Linked DNA regions of Homo sapiens. The protein of the gene in region 1 purifies or fractionates together with the protein of each later gene. This does not show direct contact. Each region holds a gene or a part of one and is shown on either strand. Other genes may lie near its edges.

Region 1 (8,046 bases):
CTGGCTTCAAGACAAAGATAAAGGCTTCAGTTTGTGGTTTGTTGGTATAGTTTGGGATAGATGGTTCTTAACTTTGGCTGCCCATCTGAAACTCCTGAGGAGCTTTAAAAAATCTCCACGTGAGGTCATCCCTTAGAACTAGATCCAAGCACTGTGGCTCATGCCTGTAATTCTAGCACTTTGGGAGACTGAGGCAGGAGATTGCTTCAGCCCAGGAGTTCGAGACCAGCCTGGGCAGCAAAGTGAAACCCCCATCTCTACAAAAAATTTTTAAAAAATTAGGCATGGTGGCACATGCTTGAAGTCCCAGCTACTCGTAAGGCTGAGATGCGAGATCACTTGAGCCCAAGAGGTTGAGTCTGCAGTGAGCCATGATCATGCCACTGCACCCCAGCCTGGGTGACAAAGCAAGACACTGTCTCAAAAAAAAAAAAAAAAAAAAAAAAAAGAAAGAAAGAAAAAAAAGAACAAGAACAATTACATCACAATTCCAGGGGAAAGGGTTAGCGCCAAGGTGCTCCAGGTGATTTTAATTCACAGCCAAGATTGACAACCACTGCAACTTGACTTCCTAGATCAGAAGTGGGACCCAGGAATTCATGTAGCCTGTCCTAATGAGACACTATCTTTGACTTGGTTAAATTAGAGAATTATGTCCTACACAAAATGTTTAACCACAGAAAAATGGTTAAGCAAAACAAAAATAAGTCCACTCAGTGGAACCTCTATAGAAACAAAGAACTATACTTTCAGAGTTAAGAATTCCATGGAGGCTGGGCACAGTGGCTCATTCCTGTAAACACAGCACTTTGGGAGGTGGAGGCAGACAGATCTCTTGAGCACAGGAGTTTGAGACCAGCCTGGGCAACACAGTGAAACCCCTTCTCTACAAAAAATAAAAAAGTTAGCCAGACATGGTAGTGTGTGCCTGTAGTCCCAGCTACTCAGGAGACTGAGGTGGGAAGATTGCTTGAGTCCAGGAGGCAAAGGGTACAGTGGGTCGAGGTCACACCACTGCACTCCAGCCTGGGCGACAGAGCCAGACCGTGTCTCAAAAAAAAAAAAAAAAAAAAAAAAAGCATGGAAAATGATTAAATATGAAGTAAAAAAGCAAGCTAAAAATTACACATGTACTTTGCAGGAGTATAGACTGTAGAAGATATATTTGCCATTCCTTATACGTTTAACTTTTGTGTGATTTGCCACTTTATATATTAAATTTGAATAGGTCTCAACTATTTTTTTTTGTAAACCAGAGGAATAATACTGTTTTGAATTTCCTAATTTAATCCTGAAGACAAACTTACTTTTATACCCCCATCCATGGCTCACTGGTCAATGTTTTGAGCTATTTCCATTTGTTCTCACTCAGGCTCCTATATAACCCTGGCATTAGTTATCTCTTTTCGTCTTTTTAAAGCCTCTTGGAACAAGTCTCCTGCCTTCCACTCTGGATGTGTTGGTGAGGTTTGTGTTGGAGTTTGTGGAGACTTGTGAATACTATATCCCTCCCCATCCAGGGGTTCCAACACTGAGCATCTTTCTCTCACTGACATCTTTCAGCAAATAAATTCTTCCCATATATTGTCCCTTTTGCACTTCCCCTTTCAACCTTGAGATATCCTTTTGAGGATCCTTAGTTCCAACTTTTCAGTAGTTTGTGCCCTGAATCACAGACATCCTTTCTTCCCCAGTAATTATAACCTTTTCCATGCAATAAGAGACCTATTGTCTTCTTTACCCCCAAACGCCAACTGTTCTCAGATTCTCTATGAGTGCAGTTGGGGTGGAGCCAGGACACTCACCGCCAGGATGCTCTGCGGCTCGGTGATGTCTTCATTCTGGGAAGAAGAGAAGACAGCAGGAAGGCGGTGCGGGGAGAGGGGTGTGACTGGGAGGACAGTAGATCCCCCGGGCGGGGGCAGGATCATGACCCTGAAAACGTGCCTGGGGAAGGTCAGAAAGTCATCCAAGGTCCTCCCAGAGGATTCCCAGAGCCCCACACTCACCCTTGACCAGACGCGCATCCACAGCTCCCGGGACGCTTTCTCCAGCATCTCTGGATGCTCCAAGTTCACGGCGGTGAGGAAACGCATGGCAGACAAACTTCCTGTGGGGCAGAGGCACCCAGAGGCAGGGCTCCTCTTGCTGCTTTCCTGGTGGAGGACTAGCTCTTCCTTGCTTCTGACATCCCCCAGAGCTCCTCCGCCCTCAGCCTCTCACCCAAGGTTCCCATGACCTATTTGCCTGCTCTTCTTCCCTTTCATGCCCGGCAACCTTCAGCTCGCTCAAGGCTGATCCTGAGGTTTCCCAAGGCAGGCTTCACTTGCTTTAGTCTCCCGCAGCCCCTCCATCCTATCAATCCCTCAATCTCCGACTTCTGTGTTTTTCACTGGATACCCTGTCTACATCCCACTCTCTTCACCTTTTTCAAGCATCACAGACAAGAAATCCTTGGGGAAGTGGATGGGAATCTGGAGATGGTGTCTCAGGAGCTTTAAGTCATTTGCCATGTATAGTCCTTTGCGGGGAAGCAGACCTGGAGGCTTGTTTCCTGCCAGGAGAAGGTTGGGCACGCTAAGTGAGAAAAGACCTAAGGGTCCCAGGTTTGGGGACCTCGACGTGGGTTTTGGGCAGAGGGCAGCTTCCTTTTTTTTCTCTTGTTGTTTCGCTCTTGTTGCCCAGGCTGGAGTGCAATGGTGCGATCTCAGCTCACCGCAACCTCCGCCTCCTGGGTTCAAGCGATTCTCCCGCCTCAGCCTCCCGAGTAGCTGTGGTATACAGGCATGCACTACCACGCCCGGCTAATTTTGTATTTTTAGTAGAGACGGGGCAGAGGGCAGCTTTCTGGCTGCCAGTGCCAATATAAGGACCCGCTGGGGTCGGCTCTCTTGGGCCACTGAGATCACCCCTGCCCCGACCCTCCCTTCCTACCACTGTCTTTCATGATCCCTGTTATGAGGCTGGGCCGCAACTGCAGGTTGATGTTCCAGATATTCTGATACCGGCACAGGATCTGCGGGCAGAGGTCAAGAACGATTGCCAGTGTGCAAGATGGAAAAGTGAAAGAGCCGAGGGAAAGGGAAGGGAGGCGCTAAGTGCAGAGCAGGGGTTATGCGGACACCCTACATTGTTTGGTTTGAAATTGGCAAAACTCTCCTCACTACTAGAAATCTATTCCAGGATCTTCGCTCCTGTGGCCAGTTTTCCCCAAAACTGCCATCGTTGGGCTAAGAGGTGGCCGTGTTCTGCATTTCTCCCTGAATGTTTGGAGCCGCCCCTCTTTCCACCACCGTGGGAAACTGCAGTCGGGATATAAAGGCTCGGGTTGGAGCCAGCGACTCTATTCCGTTTAAAAGCACAAAGTGACCTTCAGCCCCGGAGCTCTCCCTGCTTGCCTTAACCCCTTGGGCGGCGCCAGGAGTTACACGAGACCTCTGTCCCGGAGCCCTGCGCTCACTCTTCCCTCCGCCCTCACTCCCCAGACACTGCCGAGGCGACCCCTCCCAGCGTCACCTCGAAGCCCAGCCAGGAGTAGGGGGACAGCACGTCATAGAAGAGCTCCACGGTGCGCGGCAGGGGCCCCATGCTGCAGGCTCCGGAAGAGCAGTGGCAGCAGGAGCTCCTTTTCCCGGAACCCGGCAGAGGCTGCCCAGCTTCTGGGCCTGCCTGGGACCGCCCACCGCCTTAGCGCGCAGCCTCAGAGAGAAACTGCCCTGGTAGAGGTCCACCTCCGGCGCAGCGGGGCAGGGCCAGCCTACGGCCCCCAGCCAGGGGCGGGGTGGGTAGGGACCCCTTGGGGAGCGCGCAGGTGTGGACAAGGGGCGCTGCAATCGCCTTTGCAAAAATTTTAACAGTGAGAAAATTACGAAGGTGAAACAGATCTGAACTCACCAACTCCATCGTGCCTTTAACCTCCAAACTGCCCTTGGTCATTCCTGAGCATGGGACGAGCTAATATAGGGAGAAATTTAGTTTATAGTTTAAATGATAATAGCCCTTCCCCAAACTAAACCAGTTTTATAAAACTAATAAAAGTCCACAAGTTTAGGATTATGAGAGGGGCCTGAATTCTGCTAAGATGTAGGCATTAACAATTACCAGACATTGTTCCAGAGGTCACAAGCTCTGCAACTTCCCCAATTATTCCTGTAAATAACCACTTTTGTAGAACCTAAGACTGGCCTTTGAAGATACCTTCTCAGACTTTTCCATTTCTAATGACAGGATGACTCCACCTGGACCAGTGACTCCTCTGTGGCCCGCATCCAAATGCAACTCGGTGCACTGAGGACGGTTTTCCACACCCCTGTGATTGCATCCCCAACCAATTAGCAGCACCCATTCTCTAGCCCCTTGCCCATCAAACTATCATTAAAAAACTCTAGCCGGCGGGCATGGTGGCTCACGCCTGTAATCCCAGCACTTTGGGAGGCTGAGGTGGGTGGATCACTTGAGGTCAGGAGTTCAAGACCACTCTGGCCCACATGGTGAAACCCTGTCTCTACTAAAAATGCAAAAATTAGCCGGGCATGGTGGCATGTGCCTGTAATCCCAGTTACTCGGGGGGCTGAGTCAGGAGAATTGCTTGAATCCGGGAGGCAGAGGTTGCAGTGAGCCGAGATCATGCCACTGCACTCCAGCCTGGGTGACATAGCAAGACTCCCTCTCAAAAGAAAAACAAAAACAAAAACAAAAAAACCCACAAAGTCCCCTAGCCTCTGCCTCCGAATTTTGGGAGGCTAATTTGAGTAATAATAAAACTCTGGTCTCCTGTTTAGCTGGCTCTATGTGTATTAAACTCTTTCTCTATTGCAATTCCCTTGTCTTGATAAATTAGCCCCATCTGGGTAATGGGCAAGATGAACCCATTGGGCTGGTGTCAGGGTGACTGTCCTGCTCTGCAGTGGAGTCTTGTGGGAAGGGGGTAGTTTGAGATGCCTGCAGTGCCTTTCACTTAGCTGTGCCCCTTGGGTGAGCCACTTGACCTCTCTGAACCTATTTCCTCATCCTGCATACACATGGGGAATATCTAATGATAACACCTGCCTTATGACGAGTTGTGAGGAATGAGGTACTCCAATAACTGCTAGCTCTTATTATTGTTGCTTGGCAGTTGCATGAATCTCCTAAACTGGGGCAGAATAAGAAGTTCTCAGAGTACACATTTTCTTGTGTTACCTTTGTCAGAGATTTGCACAATGTCTGGGACACATTTGACCATCGATACATATATTTTGAGTGAGTGAAAAAAAAGAGGGACTGGTAGAAGATGGAGAGGCCTCACTATAGATAATTTTGGTGATAATGGAAACGATTGGCCCTATTCGTTTTCACAAATATGTGAGTCATATTGTCTTATATTGGGATTACATTTACTGCAAAGAAACAGAATTTTAAAATAATTCCATTTAACTTTGTTAAAATTATTTTTAACATTACTAATTTAATAAATTGGAAAACATATAAAGATTCCACTTTTCATTTGTATCAATAAGGAAAACAACTCCAGGCTATCAGAATACAGAGATACGAGGTAAACCCCTACATGGAGAAGAGCATGCAAAATGGAATGAAAAATGATGTTATCATTACCTACTTGCAGAGTAAACTAATTGTTCAACAACCACTGAAACTAAACTTTTTTTTTTTTTGAGATGGAGTCTTGTTCTGTTGCCCAGGCTGGAGTGCAGTAGCACAATTGCAGCTCACTGCAACCTCTGCCTCCTGGGTTCAAGCAATTCTCTCTGCCTCAGCCTCCCAAGTAGCTGGGATTACAGGTGCCCACCACCACGCCCAGCTAATTTTTTGTGTGTTTTTGGTAGAGATGGGCTTTCACTATGTTGGCCAGCCTGGTCTTGAACTCCTGACCTCAGGTGATCCACCCATTTTGGCCTTCCAAAGTGCTGGGATTACAAATGTGAGCCACCACAGCCCACCTTGTTTTTTTTGAGACATGATCTCACTCTCGCTCAGACTGAAGTGCAGTGGTTCAATTTTGGCTCACTGCAACCTCTGCCCCCCAAGCTCAAGCAATTCTCCCACCTTGGCCTCCTGAGTAGCAGGGACTACAGGTGTATGTCACCACACCCAGCTAATTTTTGTTTTTTGTCGAGGTGGGGTTTCACCATGCTTCCCAGTCTGGTCTTGAATTCCTGGGCTCAAGTGATCCTCCCACCTCGGCCTCCCAAACTGCTGGGATTACAGGCATGAGCCACCATGCCCAGCTACATTTTTGTTTTTCTCCAGTAATCATAATTTTAAAGTGTCCAAGAGCTAATTCAGCGTGGTAATTTAAGGTTTCATTTCAAAGGTAGATCAATCACTTATTTTAAAAAGCTTTTTATATTTGGAAATGTTTTAGATTTATAGAAGACTTGTAAAGATAGTACAAGGTTTCTGAATACCCCTCATCCAGCTTTACCTAATGTGAAAATCTTACATAAGTATGATAATGATAAAAACCAATACATTAACATTGGTACATTACTTTTTTTTTTTTTTTTGAGCTGGAGTCTCACTCTGTTACCCAGGCCGGAGTGCAGTGGCGCAATCTTGGCTCACTGCGACCTCCGGCTCCCAGGTTCAAGCGATTCTTCTGCCTCAGTCTCCCAAGTAGCTGGGACTACAGGCGTGTGCCACCACGCTCAGCTAATTTTTTGTATTTTTTAGTAGAGACGGGGTTTCACCATATTGGACAGGCTGGTTTCCAACTCCTGATCTCGTGATCCCCCTGCCTCAGCCTCCCAAAGTGCTGGCATGAGCCACTGTGCCCAGCCTGGTACGTTACTATTAACTGAACTGCAGGTTTTGCTCAGATTTCACCAGTTTTTTCATTAGTGTTCTTTTTCTGTTCCAGGATCCAGTCCAGCATACATACAGAATTTTGTTGTCATGTCTCTTTATTCTTCCCATATCTATGAGAGTTTCTTGGCCTTTTCTAGTGTTTCATGACTTTGACACTTGTGAAGAGTATTGATCAGCTATTTTGTGGCATGTCCCTTCATTTGGGTTTGTCTGATATTTCCTCAGAGTAAGACTAAGGTTGTGGACTTTTGGGAAGATTACCACAGAGGTAAGGTGCCCTTCTTGAATCATGTCATGAGGTACAGGGATATCAACATGACTCATCACTGGTGGTGTTTACCTTGGTCACCTGGTTAAGGCGGAGCAACTGGAAAATTTCTGCACTGTAAAGTCACCATTTTTCCCTATCCAAACCCTAGTTTTTGGAAGGGAGTCAGTAAGTGCAGCCCATCCTGGGAGTGAGGGTTGAGTAGATTAAGTCCATCCACTGGAGGGAAGAATATTAAAGAAGTTGTGGATATACGTTAACACTACCATGGTAACTAATAAATATTTGGGGGAGATACTTTGAGGCTATGCAAATATCCAGTTGCTCCCTAAACTGTCACCCATCAGTTTTATTATTCATCAGTGGATCTTGCCTGCAGCAGTTGTTACTGTGGTGTTCTAATGGTGATTCTCTATTTCCTTAGTTTTTTTCATTTATTAATTGGAATTCTTTTGACAGGAGAGTTGTCCCTTCTTTCTATTTATTTATTTATTCAGTCAGTTATTTATATCAGTATGGACTCATGTATATTTACTTTAAGAATCACAGAATAATAAAACATTGATCTGAGTCCTTACAGTCTATCTCCACATACTATTACTGTTGTTATTATTATTATTTTTAGGTTGGGCCCTGTTGTGGATAAAATGGAGTAGAGACAACAAAAAGAAAAATATATTCACTTCTATGGGCTATCATCTTCCTATTGCTGAGAGGGGTATTTAGTGTTAAAAGAAAAACCTCAGACAATTTAAATTTAATGGAGTTTATTTGAGTAAAGAATGATTCTTGAATCAGGCAGTACTCAGAACCAGAAGAGGTTCCGAGAGCTCTGCAACTGTAAGCAATGAGTATTTATAAGCAGAACAGGAAGGTAAAGTACATAAATAGTTTGATTTGTTGCAGCTAAGTGTTTTGCTTGATTTAGACATGAGCCAGTCCGTTGGCTGCTTGCACTTAGCTGAAGCTTG
Region 2 (8,013 bases), on another chromosome or scaffold:
GGCATGAGCCACCATGCCCAGCCAAGCCTTGTTATTCTTAATGTTTGAGTGGTTTAAAGGTGAAATATATTGAAAGTAATGCTGTGCTTCACTGAACCTGCGATATCATGAAAACCCATCTTACCTCACAGCTGTGTTTCTCCTCAGAGCCACAGTCTGTATGAGGGATTTTTCAGAGACAGTTCTCTTCCTATTTTTCTCTGAGACCAAATGGCTTTGTTCATGTACTTTTTTAGTACTTGAAATAAATTAATGCAGAGTTTTGATACCCCCATGGAGCAAAAGGCTTCAAAAAAAAGGTAAGGGGGCCTTATTTAATTAACCCAGCAGTTTAAATTAAAAGCTAACAAAGATGGGAAATTTTATGCGTTTAAAACCAAAGAAAGCCTCTGCCCTGGCAAGGTGTATGCTCTGGTTCTAAATGATTATGCTCCCAATAACAGCAGTGCAGGGACTTCACACAAGACAGAGAAGGATGTGTAGCTCCAACTAGACAGAAAACAGCTCTCTGCAGGTTGTAACATGTAACACATATTCTTGGAATTGTGCTTGAACTTTGACAGAAAGCAAATATCTGTATTAAGAACACAGAACCCGTTTCCTTTTGGTTGTTCTTTTCTTTTTTTCTTTTTTTTTTTTTTTTTGGAAATGGGGTCTTGCTCTGTTGCCCAGGCTGGAGTGCAGTAATCTTGGCCCACTGCAACCTCCACCTCCCTGGTTCAAGCGATTCTCCTGCCTCAGCCTCCCCAGTAGCTAGGATTACAGGCACGTGCCACCATGCTCAGCTAATTTTTGTATTTTTAGTAGAGATGGGGTTTCGCCATGTGGGCGAGGCTGGTCTCAAACTCCTGACCTCAAGTGATCCACCTGCCTCGGCCTCCCAAAGTGCTAGGATTACAGGTGTGAGCCACTGCACCCGGCCCCTTTTGGTTTTTCAAAAGAAGTTTATCAGTAGGCTTTCTCCCATTTTGAGTTTTGAAAATTCTAATTTTTGTAGTGGTTATCTTCCAGTGCAGCAGCATTTGGAATAAATATGTGGAATTTTCTTTATTTTAATGATCAGCAAATAAGAAGTATGTTGAAAACAAAATAAAAAGGTGGGCCAGGCGCGGTGGCTTACGCCTGTCATCCCAGCACTTTGGGAGGCCAAGGAGGGCAGATCATTTGAGGTCAGGAGTTTCAGACCAGCTTGACCAACATGGTGAAACCCCAACTCTACCAAAAACTCAAATAATTAGGTGTGGTAGCAGACGCCTGTAATCCCAGCTACTCTGGAGGCTGAGACAGGAGAATTGTGTGAGCTTAGGAGGTGGGGGTTGCAGTGAGCTGAGATCACACCACTGTATTCCAGCCTGGGTGACAGAGTAAGACTCTGTCTCAAAATAAATAAATAAATAAAAATTAAAAATGTGGATTGAGGGTATCCTGCCAGACATATCTTTTCCTTTTGACCAAGATCTTCATTATCTTTTTTCTTTTTTTTTTTTTTTTTTTTGAGATGGAGTCTCGCTCTGTCACCTAGCCTGGAGAGCAGTGGCACAATTTCTGCTCACTGCAACCTCCATCTCTGAAGTTCAAGTGATTCTCAACCTCAGCCTCCTGAGTAGCTGAGATTACAGGTGCGCACCGCCACCCCAGCTAATTTTTGTATATTTAGTAGAGACAGGGTTTCACAATGTTGGCCAGGCTGGCCTCGAACTCTTGACCTCAAGAGATCCACCCACCTTGGCCTCCCAAAGTGCTGGGATTACAGGTGTGAGCCACCGCACCCAACCACTTCATTTTCAGATAGCGGCTGCTCCTAGAGCAAGAGTATGTTGAGCTGTGTGAGTCATATGGATGTATAATAATTCATGAAAGTATGCCTGACCTGTGTGTGATGTAGCACGGATAGTGTTGTTCCAGCTTGTTTTAGTTTTTATTAAAAATAGACCCAATCAGGCCGGATGCAGTGGCCCACACCTGTAATCCCAGCACCTTGGGAGGCCGAGGCTCCTTGAGCCCAAGAGTTTGAGACCAGCCTGGGCAACGTGGTGAGACCCTGTCTCTACTGTAAAAAAAAAAAAAAAAGAAAGAAAGAAAAAATAGACTTAAATCAACAATATAAATTGCAAAGCTGACTGGATATAAATTATTATTATTACTTTTTGAGCAGGGTCTTACTCATCACCCAGGCTGGAATGCAGTAGTGCGGTCACGGCTCACTGTATTCTTTTTTGTAGAGATGGAGTCTTCCTATGTTGCCCAGGCTAGTCTTGAACTCCTAGGCTCAAAGGATCCTCCTGGCTCAGCCTCCCAAAGTGTTGGGATTACAGGCATGAACCACCAAACCCAGCAAGGAGACAAATTATATATACACACACACACATATGTAATATGTATATAATATATTTTTATTTTTATTATTTCTTTTGAGACAGGGTCACACTCTGTTGCCCAGGCTGGAGTGCAGTGGCATGATCTTGGCTCACTGCAACATACACCTCCCAGGCTCAAGCAATTTTCCTACTGCAGCCTTCTGAGTACCTGGGACTACAGGCGCATGCCATAATGCCCAGCTAACTTTTGGTTTTTTTTGAGACGGAGTCTTGCTTTGTCACCCAGGCTGGAGTGCAGTGGCCTGATCTCTGCTCACTGCAACCTCCGCCTCCTGGGTTCAAGCGATTCTCCTGCTTCAGCCTCCTGAGTAGCTGGGATTACAGGTGCGGGCCACCACGCCTGGCTAATTTTTTTGCATTTTTAGTAGAGACGGGGTTTCACCATGTTGGTCAGGCTGGTCTCGAACTCCTGACCTCGTGATCCTTCTGCCTCGGCCTCCCAAAGTGCTGGGATTACAGGCGTGAGCCACCGTGCCCAGTCTAACTTTTGTATCTTTTTTGTAGAGACAAGGTTTTGCCATGCTGCCCAAGCTGGTCTCAAACTCCTGGGCTCAAGTGATCCACCTGTCTCAGCCTCCCAAAGTGCTAGGATTATAAGCTTGAGCCACTGTGCCTAGCCTTGGGAGATATATTAAATATATATTGAATTTGAAAGAAACTATTCTTACTGGTGTGGTATAAACAGACCAATCCTTGGCTCTGATTTCTGATGTGGTATGTTTTCTGTCTCCAAGGAGGGGGTATAAAAAATATGTAAAAGTGATAGTTCACTTTCTTTTCTTTTTTTTTTTTTTTGAGACAGGGTCTCACTCTGTTTCTCAGGCTGGAGTGCAGTGGAGCGATCTCTGCTCCCTGCAACCTCTGCCCCCCTGGTTCAAGCAATCCTCCCACCTCAGCCTCCCAAGTAGCTGGGACCGCAGGTGCATGTCACCACACCTGGCTAATTTTTTGTATTTTTAGTAGAGACAGGGTCTCACCATGTTGCCCAGTCTGGTCTCAAATTCCTGAGCTCCAGCAATCTGCCCGCCTTGGCCTCCCAAAATGGTGGTTTTACAGGTGTGAGCCACCATGCCCAGTCTCACTTCCTCAAACTTTACAGTAAAGTTGATTAGTCCATTGAACTTAAAGATTTAGTAACTATTTACTAATGTTAAATTCAAAAGGGTGCTAAGTGTTTTATTCTTATCTCCTGTCATACTGGATTTCAGATATCTTTTTTAACCTCAAGTTGTCTGGAAATAAACTGAGATTTGAATGATAGGATCTGATGTAAGGATCTCATTATAAGCTGAATAAACATGACATACTCCCTGTGTACTATGTCTGGGAATATTCTTTGACACTACAGTCTTAAAAATTATAATTTGTAACTTTCATTAAAGATCTACCTTAGATATGACAGAGATAAATGTAGTAATTTAATGGAATCACAAAACACTTCATTAAAAAAAATCTTTGTTGGCCAGGCGCAGTGGCTCAAGCTTGTAATCACAGCACTTTGGGAGGCCGAGGTGGGCGGATCACCTGAGGTCAGGAGTTCGAGACCAGCCTGGCCAACATGGTGAAACCCTGTCTCTACTAAAAATATAAAAATTAGCTGAGCATGGTGGCAGGCGCCTGTAATCCCAGCTACTCAGGAGGCTGAGGCAGGAGAATCACTTGAACCTGGGAGGCGGAGGCTGCAGTGAGCCAAGATCACATCACTATACTCCAGCCTGGGTGACGGAGTGAGACTCTGTCTCAAAAAAAAAAAATCTGTGTCATCCACTTTTCTGTAAGTCCTGGAAATATATGGACAAAAAGGCATGGTCTCTGCCCTTAGTGAGCTTACAGTGCAGTAGAGGGACAGTCACCCAACAGTTTGACCAGGTACCTTGAGAACAGAGGAAAGATTACCTAAATTTATGTTGGCAAGGTACTCAGACTTCATAGTGCTTACACTGAGTCTTTGAAGGAACAGGCATTTGTAAGGCAACAGAAGGACAAAGGAGGCTGGCTCGGTAGGGACCAGATCTAGAACAGGACTTCTGTGACTTACTAAGCACTTCGAGTTTAATTTCAGGAATGAGTAGGAATGCTGAAAGAATTTTGAAAAGGAGGGTAAAATAGATTTATATTTTTGGATAATTACTTTGTATTATTGGGGATAATGGTAGCATCATAGAGACTGGATTGGAAGATAATGAAGAACCAGTTAAAGAGGTATAATGCAGTAGTCCAGGGGAAAGATGATGAAGACATGAACTAAGGCAGCAATAGCAGAAATAACATGAGACGGAGAAAGGAAACAGCAGATTCTGCATCAGCACTTGGCAGTTTAGAAGGACATGTCATTGTCATCTGGTATGTGAGGATTCCCCTCCAATAAGTGTTACAAAGCTTGCTGGTTAGGAAGCCATCTTTAGCAGAGAATATTACCTATATAGGGTTACTTATTTTTCCCTGGGCACCTGTGAATGTGTAGTGCTTGATATTTGTAATTTAAAAAAAATTCTATAGAATATAAAATATAAAATCAAATCTGGATTTTATTTATAAAGAAGGTTTGCAAGTTGAACCTTGCGTCAAGATTTCCCATTGTTTCTGCAAAACTTATCGTTGGGTTTCGTTTTCCAGATTCTCCGGGCCCAAAGCCGAAGTGCAAGTGGAAGGAAGATCTCTGAAAACAGCTATTCTCTAGATGACCTGGAAATAGGCCCAGGTAAGCAGAGAGTTCCATGTGTATGAGGTCCTTTAGGAAGTACTCACTAGTAGTAACATCTTTTGGACTCGAAGCCAATGCTTTTAAAGGAAGAGTGGCACAAATTAAAAGGAAGTCTGCCTATTAGATGCAAGCCATTCTCAAATCTCATTGCTCTCGATAAATAGCTTTTTTTTTTTTTTTTTTTTTGAGACGGAAGTTGACGTGCTCCCAAAGTGCTGGGATTACAGGCATGAGCCGTCATGCCCGGCTGCTTTTTTCATATTTTTAATCCACCCTTGTTAGTGGTAACCTATGGTAAGCAAAGGGTACTTTGAGGAGCTATAAGTAAAGTGCTACGATCAGTTTTGCCTCCAGTCATCTGGGGTTTGAGGGCTTCAGTAGATGGGCTGTGTCCCCTATCAGGTTTGGTTACCCTGTATTACCAGTGATAACATAACACTTTGAGAGTGGAATTATGTTTTAAAGGGGACATATACAGGCACTTCACAAAAGAAAAAATTAGTAAAAACAGGAAAACATCAGCTACCTAGTCATCAAAGAAATGTAAATTAAAAAGCATTGAGATCTCTTCTTTTTCATGTTAAATTAGCCAGAATTTTAAAATACGAGCCCAGGCATGGTGGCTCAGACCTATAATCTCAGCACTTAGGGAGGCTGAGACAGGAGGACCACTTAAATCCAGGAGTTTGAGACCAGCCTGGGCAACATAGACCTATCTCTACAGAAAAAAAAAAAAAAAGCCCAGCGTGGTGGTGCATCCTTGAAGTCACTGCTACTTGGGAAACTGAGGTGGTTGGATCATTTGAGCCCAAGACTTCAAAGCTGCAGTGAGCTATGATTGTACCACTGCCCCATACTCTAGCCTGGGTGACAGAGTGAGACCCTGTCTCAAAAAATAAAATATGCAATCCTCAATTATGGTAAGGTTCTTTTAATGCTAAGAAAGTGAGTGAATATTACTTTATAAATGACAATTATATTCCTGATTTTCTTCTTCGTGCTTTTAACAGAAGATATTGGCCATTAGATAAAAATAACCCAAAATTTAGAATTTTGAAATTATTTGAATCACTTTTATCTTCTAATAAAACATGTTGGCCAGTCACGGTGGTTTACACCTATAATTCCAGCGCTTTGGGAGGCTGAGGCGGGAGGATATCTTGAGCTCAGGAGTTCGAGGCTGTAGTGAGCTATGATCGTGCCACTGCACTTCAGCCTGGGTGATAGAGTGAGACCCCATCTCAGAAATAAAATAAAACATGTTATTTGGATGCTTCCAGGTCAGTTGTCATCTTCTACATTTGACTCGGAGAAAAATGAGAGTAGACGAAATCTGGAACTTCCACGCCTCTCAGAAACCTCTATAAAGGATCGAATGGCCAAGTACCAGGCAGCTGTGTCCAAACAAAGCAGCTCAACCAACTATACAGTATGTGTTCTGCATCATTCATTCATTCATTCATTCCATCATCCAGCAGATGGTCACTGAGTACTGGAATTAGGAAATGTCACCAGACCCTTGTATCTGAGCCCTGGTCCCCTAGCTGTTCTCTTTTCACATGAACCCTACCCTCGCTGGATTTGCAGTTCTTACCATGGTCTAATCCTGACTTTGCTTTCTTAGTCCTGGTTCCCACCCCACTCACTTTTTTTGTGATGTTACCAGTGAGTATCATTGAGAGTTTCCCTGGCTCTTCTACTTAATCTTTGTGTTGTTAAAGAAGTAGTATTTTATTAGTTTTAATATAACTCTTATTTTATCTTGGTTGTTGAGGGAAGAAGGAAGAAGACTGAAGAGCTTATTTTGGCTTTTGAGGGAAGAAAGAAGAAGACTGGAGAGAAATATCAGCTGTGTTCATTAACGAGGGTTTTTTTTGTGATTTTTTACTGAGATATAACTCACATAATATAAAATCACCATTTTAAAGTATACAATCTTGTGATACTTAGCATATTCACAAGGTTGTACAACCATTACCACTGTTTAATTCCAGAACCTTTCCATCACCCTGAAAAGAAACTTCATACCTGTGTAGTCACTCCCAACTTCCCCTGCTCTCATCCCCTGGCAACCACTTAGCTACTTCCTGTCTTTATGTATCTGCCTATTTTGGAAATTTCATATGAAGGAGTCATACAGTAGATCTTCTACTTAATCTTTAATCCTTACGATGTACTGTTTTCCTAAAGAAGTAGAATAGTAGATAAGGAAAAGGGAGAGATCACAAGAAGGTGACGTGCTCAGTAAGCATGAAAATTTTGATATTCAGCTGGGTGTGATGGCTCACACCTGTAATCCCAGCACTTTGGGAGGCCGAGGTGGGCAGATTGCCTGAGGTCAGGAGTTCAAGACCAGCTTGGCTAACGTGGTGAAACCCCATCTCTACTAAAAATACAAAAATTAGCCAGCATGGTGGCAGGCACCTGTAATCCCAGCTACTTGGGAGGCTGAGGCAGGAGAATCGCTGGAACCCAGGAGGCAGAGGTTGCAGTGAGGCAAGATTGCGCCACTACACTCCAGCCTGGGCGACACAGCAAGACTCCGTCTCCAGGAAAAAAAAAAAAGATTGGTATTCAAAATACAATGGAGGGTCCTTCCCCTTTACGTTGTCCTGTGCTTAACGGGTAAGCTGATGCTACAGAACTGCTAAATTGAAGTTACCTTATAGCCAGGCGCAGGAGCTCACACCGTAATCCCAACACTTTGGGAGCCTGAGGTGGGTGGGTCATTTGAAGTCAGGAGTTCAGAACCAGCCTGGCCAACATGGTGAAATCCCGTCTCTACTAAAAATACAAAAAAAAAATTAGCCAGGTGTAGTGGCACACACCTGTAATCCCAGCTACTAGGGAGGCTGAGGCAGGAGAATCACTTGAACCTAGGAGATGGAGGTTACAGTGAGCTGAGATCACACCACTGTACTCCAGCCTGGG
Region 3 (8,013 bases), on another chromosome or scaffold:
TTAAAATGTGTAGTAGGCCGGGCGCAGTGGCTCATGCCTGTAATCCCAGCACTTTGGGAGGCCGAGGCGGGTGGATCATTTGAGGTCAGGAGTTCGAGACCAGCCTGGCCAACATAGTGAAACCCCGTGTCTACTAAAAATACAAAAATTAGCCAGGCATGGTGGCGCACACCTGTAGTCCCAGCTACTCAGGAGGCTGAGGCAGGAGAATCGCTTGAACCTAGGAGGCGGAGATTGCTGTGAGCTGAGATCACGCCACTGCACTCCAGCCTGGGCGACAGAGTGAAACTCTGTCTTAAAAAAATAAAAAATAGACCATCCTGGCTAACACGGTGAAACCCTGTCTCTACTAAAAATACAAAAAATTAGCCCGGCGTGGTGGCGGGTGCCTGTAGTCCCAGCTACTCGGGAGGCTGAGGCAGGAGAATGGCGTGAACCTGGGGGGCGGAGCTTGCAGTGAGCCAAGATCACACTACTGCACTCCAGCCTGGGCGACAGAGCGACACTACGTCTCAAAAAATAAAAAAAAAAAATAAATAAAAACTAAAATATGTAGTAATGCTCCCCAACTCCCACTGCTGATTTGAGAAGTAATGTGTTGTTAAAATTTGGAAAATACAAAAAGGTATAAAGAAAAAAAGAAAAGTCTCATGTAGTCCTGCAGCTTGAGAAAAGCACTTTTTACATTTTGATATTTTTCTTTCCCACCTTTCCAAGATGCATTGGTGAATACTTTTGGAAATGTGGTTGGGATATACACAGTTTTAGATCCTGTTGCTTTCACTGAACATTAGATTTGAAATTTTTCCATGCCATTAAATATTATTTTACAATATCATCCTTCAGTTACTGCGTGAATTTTCTGTTATATAGATTTACCAAGATTTAGTTTTTTATTGGTTTAAACAGTGCCGCGGTGAGCATCATGATTATTTTCACAAAATAAATTTTTTTGTTTTGTTTGAGTCAGGGGTCTCACTCTGTTGCCCAGGCTGGAGTGCAGTGGCATGATCATGACCCACTACAGCCTTAAACCCCTGGGCTCAAGTGATCCACCTGCCTCAGTTTCCCGAGTAGCTAGGACCATAGGCATGCGCCACCACCCCTAGTTAATTTTTTTGTAGTTTTTGTAGAGATGGGGGTCTTTCCATGTTGCCCAGGCAGATCTTGAACTTCTGGCCTCAAGTGATCCTCCCACCTCACCCTCCCAAAGTGCTGGGATTACAGGCATAAGCCACCACCCTGGTCCACAAAATAAATTTCTAGAAGTGAAATTGGTTTGCTGATTCATTGCCTAACCTGAGCACTGTCTCTGTTCTCAGGGTACAAGCTTTAAAGTCCCTTTCTCTGCTTAGAGTTCCAATCCCAAGTGAATTCTCCCATCACTCCGTGCCATGGCCCTTGCAGCATTGTGCCATAAGCCGCTCCCAGGCAGCAGGAGGTCGGGAATGCTTAGGGTCCTTGTCACTGCATGTCCAGTATTGCACGGATCACACTGTGCCCTGGTACCCTTGGTGACTCCTTTCATTGAGAGCCGTCTCAAGATCCTTTTGGGGGAATTGCATAGCCCAGAAGTTTTCTCTTAGGTGAATAAGCCCTTACAACTCTCATTGCAGTGGGAAGATGCCAGAAGTGGACTATGTAGTTCTGTCGGAATGGTTTGACTGGATCTTGAGGAACATGGACGTGTCTGTTGATTTGATAGGTGAGATGCACCCCTCCCACCTCCCTCTCTTGTCTCTCTCCTGGGTCCCTTGAGGATGTGCTTGGCTGGGCCCCAACCCTTGGGGGCAGTGGGTGAGGCACTTGCCCTTGGCAGTTCCTTCCCCATGGGAGTTCAGCTTTCTCCCTGAGGGCAGACAGAATTCGGGACTTCTGGTCTCTCATGGAGAAGAACCCTGGCCTTTGTTCTTTAAACTTCCCTCCCTGGCTCAGCTACTTTCAGACCCAAATCCACTGTGATCTGATGGGTTTTTCTAGTTTGCAAAGGAACAGGAAGGACAGAGCCTGAACATTCACTGAGACCTGCTGGGTGTGAGGCCTGTTTTGAGCTCTGTCTATGAACAGAATCCCATTCAGCCTCAAAACGACCCCACGGGGCCGCTGACACTGAAAGAGAATGAAAGTCGAGGCGGAGGGTCAGTGGTCAAGCCAAGAGCTGGCCCTCCCTGCTTCCTGCTCGAGCTGTGCAGACCTTCCTCCCGCCTTTGCCTGTGTGCCTGCTTTGCTTCCAAGCCATGAGCAGAGTCCTGAGAGCCACGTATTCTTTTAACCTCAGTTTACCTTCGGACCAATCCTGAGACTTGTTACCAGAGGTTAAAGAAGAGATGCAGGGAAGAGGAGAAGGTCATTCCGCTGGTAAGAGGCCTCTTTGACTTGGTTAAAGACAAACTGGGAAACCACCTCTGTCCAACCCGGCTTCCTCTCCCGGCCCCACCCCCATGAGATCATTGTGCCCTTGTTTGCAGAGAGAGAACAGGAACCAAGTGTATCAGAGGGTGAACTCTGACTTCCTGTTTGGCCAGAGACCCACGTGGATGTCCAGATCTGCTTGGCTTCCTGTGGTCGCTGACTCACAGTTTGGCAACCCTCCTGCTTGGAGGCGTTCCCCTCCCCTCCCCACCTGCCCCTCCCCATCTTGGCAGCACCAGGGCTTGTCTGTTCTGCCTCCTGAAGATTGCCTGGCCTTGTGCTCTCTGTGTCCTCCCTAGAATGCGAGTTCCAGGAGGGCAGGACCCAGCCCTCTTGTTCACTGCTGCATCCCTAGTGCTTAGCACAGTGCCCGGCACGGAGGCGGTGCTCATGCTTAGTGGTGTTTGCCCACTGGAGAGATGCCATGCCCTTCTGAGTTCTGCTCAGGCCACACTGACTCTCATGGGGACTCTGCCAGTATAGGCCCGGGCTGTGCATCTCGCCCTGGCCCTTCCCTCCTTGCATCTCCCTTCAAAATCTGGCCTCCAGGCTGCCGCCCGGCTGATATTTCCAATACTCATCACCACTCGTGCAATTTCCCAGCCCAGAACCTTTCAGTGCCTTGCTGCTGGCTAGAATGCAGTCCCCACTTTGTAATACGGCTTATGACCCGGCCCCAACTGCCTCTCTGGCGTTATCATCCTCCATTCCCTACTTTCTATGCTCTGGCTATAAGGAACTAGTTGTGGCCACACACAAACAACCACATACACAGTGGAGTTATGCAAATGTGCCTTTGCACAGTCGTTTCCTTTGTCTTTAAAGTGTTACTCAGATGTCACCTCCTCCAGGAAGCCACCCCTGACCTTCCTTCCATTGTAACCCCCCCCAAACCCACCCCCTGGCTTTCTGTGATCATGGGCCTTAGGACAGCATACTGACACTATTTGTTTATACCTTTGTTCCCCATCCCTCACTAATGTGAGCTTTTTAAGATTGGGTCTTATTCCCTCCGTGTCCTCTGCATGTGCCTTGGGGCCTGGTGCCTAGTAGTTGCTCAGTTAGTATTGAACTGAATGTCCCATGTGAGAAGCTGCCACTGGAGGGAGACAGAGGCTGGGCAAGCATTCAGTGGGGTGTCAGGGGCTCTGAGCTCAGGATAGGCTGGACTGGGGGCCCTGGGAAGCCTATCCAACTCCTGAAATCCTGCTCAGCCTTGTTTTTCCTTGGTGCCAGCACGATGCATTCCTGCCACGAGGGCCCAGGCGTCACTCTGGGCAGCTCCTTTGAAATCTTGGAGACAAGAATGCTAGGAAGATGGAATGTGGTGGAATGGGGCCAGGCTGGACCATGCTGTGATGCGCACAGCAGCTCTGTGCAGTGACCCAGATGCTCCCCAAGCCTGGGGGCCGTCCAAGCCGTGATCCAAGCCATTGTCTTAAGGGTTTGACCAGGTCCATGGGACACATCTGGCTCCTATTGCCAAGGGAGAGCTGGGCAGGAGATGTAAAGGCTGCTGCAGAGTTGACACGCGAGCCTCTGGGATGGCGAGTGGAATCTGTGTGAGGAGCCATCCCACTCTGTGCCTGGGAGAGCACGAGTATCTGCTCTGCCTGGCATGCAGGCCCCATGGCTCAGGAGGGCCTGTGCCCCTTTTCCCTTGGGCTCCGCTGCATCAGGCTTTCTGCAGTTGGTGGTCTTTATAGTCTGGAGGGTCTATAGGTTACGAGTTGTTGAGGGGGTAGAAGGGCAATGGGTGAGGGTCACAGTCCTCTTGGTGGCAAGACAGAGCGGAGGGTTTAGAGGCTGCCCAGGGCTGGGCCCCTGCCTGAAGGAACTGAGGCCCTGCTGCTGCAAAAGTGGCAGTAAATGGGAGAAGCCAGGTGTGGGTCCTGCCTTTTTTTTTTTTTTTAGTATTTATTGATCATTCTTGGGTGTTTCTCGGAGAGGGGGATTTGGCAGGGTCATAGGACAATAGTGGAGGGAAGGTCAGCAGATAAACATGTGAACAAAGGTCTCTGGTTTTCCTAGGCAGAGGGCCCTGCCGCCTTCCGCAGTGTTTGTGTCCCTGGGTACTTGAGATTAGGGAATGGTGATGACTCTTAATGAGTATGCTACCTTCAAGCATCTGTTTAACAAAGCACATCTTGCATCGCCCTTAATCCATTTAACCCTTAGTGGACACAGCACACGTTTCAGAGAGCACGGGGTTGGGGGTAAGGTTATAGACTAACAGCATCCCAAGGCAGAAGAATTTTTCTTAGTACAGAACAAAATGGAGTCTCCTATGTCTACTTCTTTCTACACAGACACAGTAACAATCTGATCTTTCTTTTCCCCACATTTCCCCCTTTTCTATTAGACAAAACCGCCATCGTCATCATGGCCCGTTCTCAATGAGCTATTGGGTACACCTCCCAGACGGGGTGGTGGCCGGGCAGAGGGGCTCCTCACTTCCCAGACTGAGCGGCCGGGCAGAGGGGTCCTCACATCCTAGACGATGGGCGGCCAGGCAGAGACACTCCTCACTTCCTAGACGGGGTGGCAGCCGGGCAGAGGCTGCAATCTCGGCACTTTGGGAGGCCAAGGCAGGCGGCTGGGAGGTGGAGGTTGTAGCGAGCCGAGATCACGCCACTGCACTCCAGCCTGGGCAACATTGAGCACTGAGTGAACCAGACTCCGTCTGCAATCCCGGCACCTCGGGAGGCCGAGGCTGGCGGATCACTCGCGGTTAGGAGCTGGAGACCAGCCCGGCCAACACAGCGAAACCCCGTCTCCACCAAAAAATACGAAAACCAGTCAGGCATGGCGGTGCGCGCCTGCAATCCCAGGCACTTGGCAGGCTGAGGCAGGAGAATCAGGCAGGGAGGTTGCAGTGAGTCGAGTTGGCGGCAGTACAGTCCAGCCTCGGCTGGGCATCAGAGGGAAACCGTGCAAAGGGGAGAGGGAGAGGGGGAGGGGGAGGGGGTCCTGCCTTTTGCCTTGGCTTTGATTCAGGCGCCAGGGGAAGGGCCAGTGTTTGTGCCCACGAACCCCCAGTGGAGCAGAGCAGGGTGGCTGGTGACACTTGTGCTGTTTTGCTCAGCCTGGCCACCGAGTGTGTGGCTGCGTCTGCCGCTGTCCACTTGAGCCAGGTTTGCTCTTGCAGGGTTCCTTTGTCTGAGTCACTGCCCATGGTCATTGACTACTTTGACCCCCTCTGCTTGACACCCTTGGTAGGTGGGGTCTGCTCTGTCCACTCCCGACAGACTGCTTGTGTTTCCCTGGCAGGAATACCTGGAAGCAATTCACCATCTCCATGAGGAGTGGCTCATCAAAGGCAGCCTTTTCCCCATGGCAGCCCCTGTTCTGGTAAGTAAGACTCCCTTACAGGGTACGAGACTGTTCTAGAAAGAGGAGTGACCCGGGGAATGTCAGCCACCTTGCAGACAGGGGAGGGCACAGTCCTTTAGAGTTTGACAACTTAGAAGAAGGAAGGTGGGAAGGCTGGTGCTCTCTCTCCCAGTGCCTGTTTCTGGGCTGAGTCTCAGAGTGAGTTGGCCAGACCCGAGGGAAGGCAGTCTGTGCCAGTGCCATCACACCTGGCAGTTGTCACTGATCCAGCATCTTCAGCGAAGACTCTAGACCCGGGTCTCAGTTTTCACCATTTGGGATAGTAGTTCCTCTGATGTGACCTTCCTCCTTCCGTGGATGACACAGAGCCTCATTTCACCTTTGTTTGGTGACTCAGGTCATCAGAAGGAATGTCATTGTCTGGTCTGGGCTGTCACACAGTGATGCCCTTAGGAATGCTGAGGTGTGTGGAACTGTCTGCCCTGCCCACTAATGTCTCTGCGTTCCTGTGTTTACTTTTTACAGTAATCCTCCTTTCTCTTGCTGCCATGTGTCATTTCTGACTGATATTGATGTGTCTGTCCCGTCAGCATTTCCTTACTTCCCCATCTCCTTGTTTTCCAGTTTGCTGTTTCCAGATTTCTTTACTCAGACAAATAAGCAGTGGCCCAGATGCTCCCAAGAAATGCGGAGTCTGGGGTCCCTCCGAGTCTTGATTGGAGGGAACCTAAGATGGTTACATATACAACATGGGATTGGCTGTGAGGCAGGGTTGTGCGCAAGCTTTGGTGCATGGCTATAGGAGCATTGTTTGATGGGATGTGAGGCAGGGCTGTGCATGAGCTTTTGTGCGTGGCCATAGGAATATCTGTTTGGGCTCAAACACTTCTGCTTATGGCTCTTGCAGGCAGTGAGGTTGCCGGAAAGTGAGATATTACTGTAGTAATTTTTTGTTTGTTTGTTTTTGAGACAGAGCCTCACTCTGTTGCCCAGACTGGAATGCAGTGACGCAATCTCGGCTCGCTGCAACCTCTGCCTCCTGGGTTCAAATGATTCTCTTGCCTCAGCCTCCTGAATAGCTGGGACTACAGGCGCATGCCACCATGCCTGGATAATTTTTTATATTTTTCGTAGAGATGGGATTTTGCCACGTTGGCCAAGCTGGTCTCAAACTCCTGGCCTCAAGTGATCTGCCTGCCTCGGCCTCCCAAAATTCTGGGATCACAGGCGTGAGCCACTGCACCCGGCCTACTGTAGTAGATTTTTAAATAAGTACAGCTTATTTTTCTCCCTCATTATGGAAAAAAAGGAGGGTAGAAAGTGATGAGGGAAAAAAACAAATCATTCATGAGCTTACAGGGTCTCACTGTGTTGCCCAGGCTGGTCTCAAACTCCTGGGCTCGTGTAATCTTCAGGTCTCAGCCTCCCAAAGTGCTTGGATAATAGACATGAGCCACCATACCTAGCTCTTGTAGTACATTCTTAAGTGAAAACCTCATTGGAAATGTAGATTGCCCTAGAGCTGAAAGCGATTTGGCTCTAACCTTCCTTTTTATCTGCCTGCAACCTTCTGTGCCCTTCCCTGCCCCCTGCTGCCTGCTTCCATCTGTCTGTCTCCAGCTGTGAAAGGAGGATGCTGCTGAGGTCAGTGCAGCCTTGTGACCCATGTGTCTAATTTCCAGGTGATTGAGGCTGACCACCACATGGAGAGGATGTTAGAACTCTTTGAACAAAATCGGGATCGAATATTAACTCCAGAGAATCGGAAGCATTGCCCATAGGAGGCAAAAGGTCTATGGCTCATGTCTGAAAAATGCCTGCTGCTGCCAAGTTAGCTATTGGGAGCAATCTGGAAAAACTTGCTCCCAGGAGGGCTTTGTGTCTGGCCAGCTTGATTTTCCTAATGGTCTCATCTCCTTTGCTAGTGTCTTTGTCATGCGTCTCTGGCCCTCGTGGGTAAATGACAAACGGGACCAATGGGTTTGCCAAGCCCTTTGCTGTTCGCAGCCTCACATTCCCCCGGTGCCTCTCCCATGGCTTTGTGCTGCTGAGTCGCTCTCATGAAGCCCTTAGGGAGAGCACCTGTTGTGTGCCTGACACCACGCTGGAGCTGTGTACCAATCGTCTCAGCCTTCATTAGGAGGCCGAGGTAGGAGTCTTATATCCCAGGTGAGGAATTTGAAGCTCAGAAAGGTTGAGGGGCTCCCCAGAGGTCACACAGCCTGTGTGCAGTGGAGCTGGCACCATTCAGACTTTCAGCCGACTCAG

Evidence for each region.
Region 2: the proteins of GSTK1 (region 1) and LIMA1 purify together in Homo sapiens (affinity purification with mass spectrometry; 2 studies listed by BioGRID and IntAct, with this or other methods). This does not show direct contact.
Region 3: the proteins of GSTK1 (region 1) and TK2 purify together in Homo sapiens (co-immunoprecipitation; 3 studies listed by BioGRID and IntAct, with this or other methods). This does not show direct contact.

Annotation. Positions count from the first base shown.
Region 1 is NC_000007.14:143,259,056-143,267,101, reverse strand, and holds the start of GSTK1 (glutathione S-transferase kappa 1), read right to left. Parts: upstream 3,662-8,046; 5' UTR 3,589-3,661; coding exon 3,517-3,588; intron 3,017-3,516; coding exon 2,935-3,016; intron 2,555-2,934; coding exon 2,426-2,554; intron 2,111-2,425; coding exon 2,010-2,110; coding exon of another isoform or gene 1,842-2,009; coding exon 1,806-1,841; intron 1-1,805. UniProt on the Homo sapiens protein: Glutathione S-transferase that catalyzes the conjugation of glutathione to exogenous and endogenous compounds. Significant glutathione conjugating activity is found only with the model substrate, 1-chloro-2,4-dinitrobenzene (CDNB).
Region 2 is NC_000012.12:50,203,050-50,211,062, reverse strand, and holds part of LIMA1 (LIM domain and actin-binding protein 1), read left to right. Parts: intron 1-4,994; coding exon 4,995-5,079; intron 5,080-6,362; coding exon 6,363-6,511; intron 6,512-8,013. UniProt on the Homo sapiens protein: Actin-binding protein involved in actin cytoskeleton regulation and dynamics. Increases the number and size of actin stress fibers and inhibits membrane ruffling. Inhibits actin filament depolymerization.
Region 3 is NC_000016.10:66,511,481-66,519,493, reverse strand, and holds part of TK2 (thymidine kinase 2, mitochondrial isoform 1 precursor), read left to right. Parts: intron 1-1,616; coding exon 1,617-1,705; intron 1,706-2,278; coding exon 2,279-2,358; intron 2,359-5,682; coding exon 5,683-5,763; intron 5,764-7,427; coding exon 7,428-7,526; 3' UTR 7,527-8,013. UniProt on the Homo sapiens protein: Phosphorylates thymidine, deoxycytidine, and deoxyuridine in the mitochondrial matrix. In non-replicating cells, where cytosolic dNTP synthesis is down-regulated, mtDNA synthesis depends solely on TK2 and DGUOK.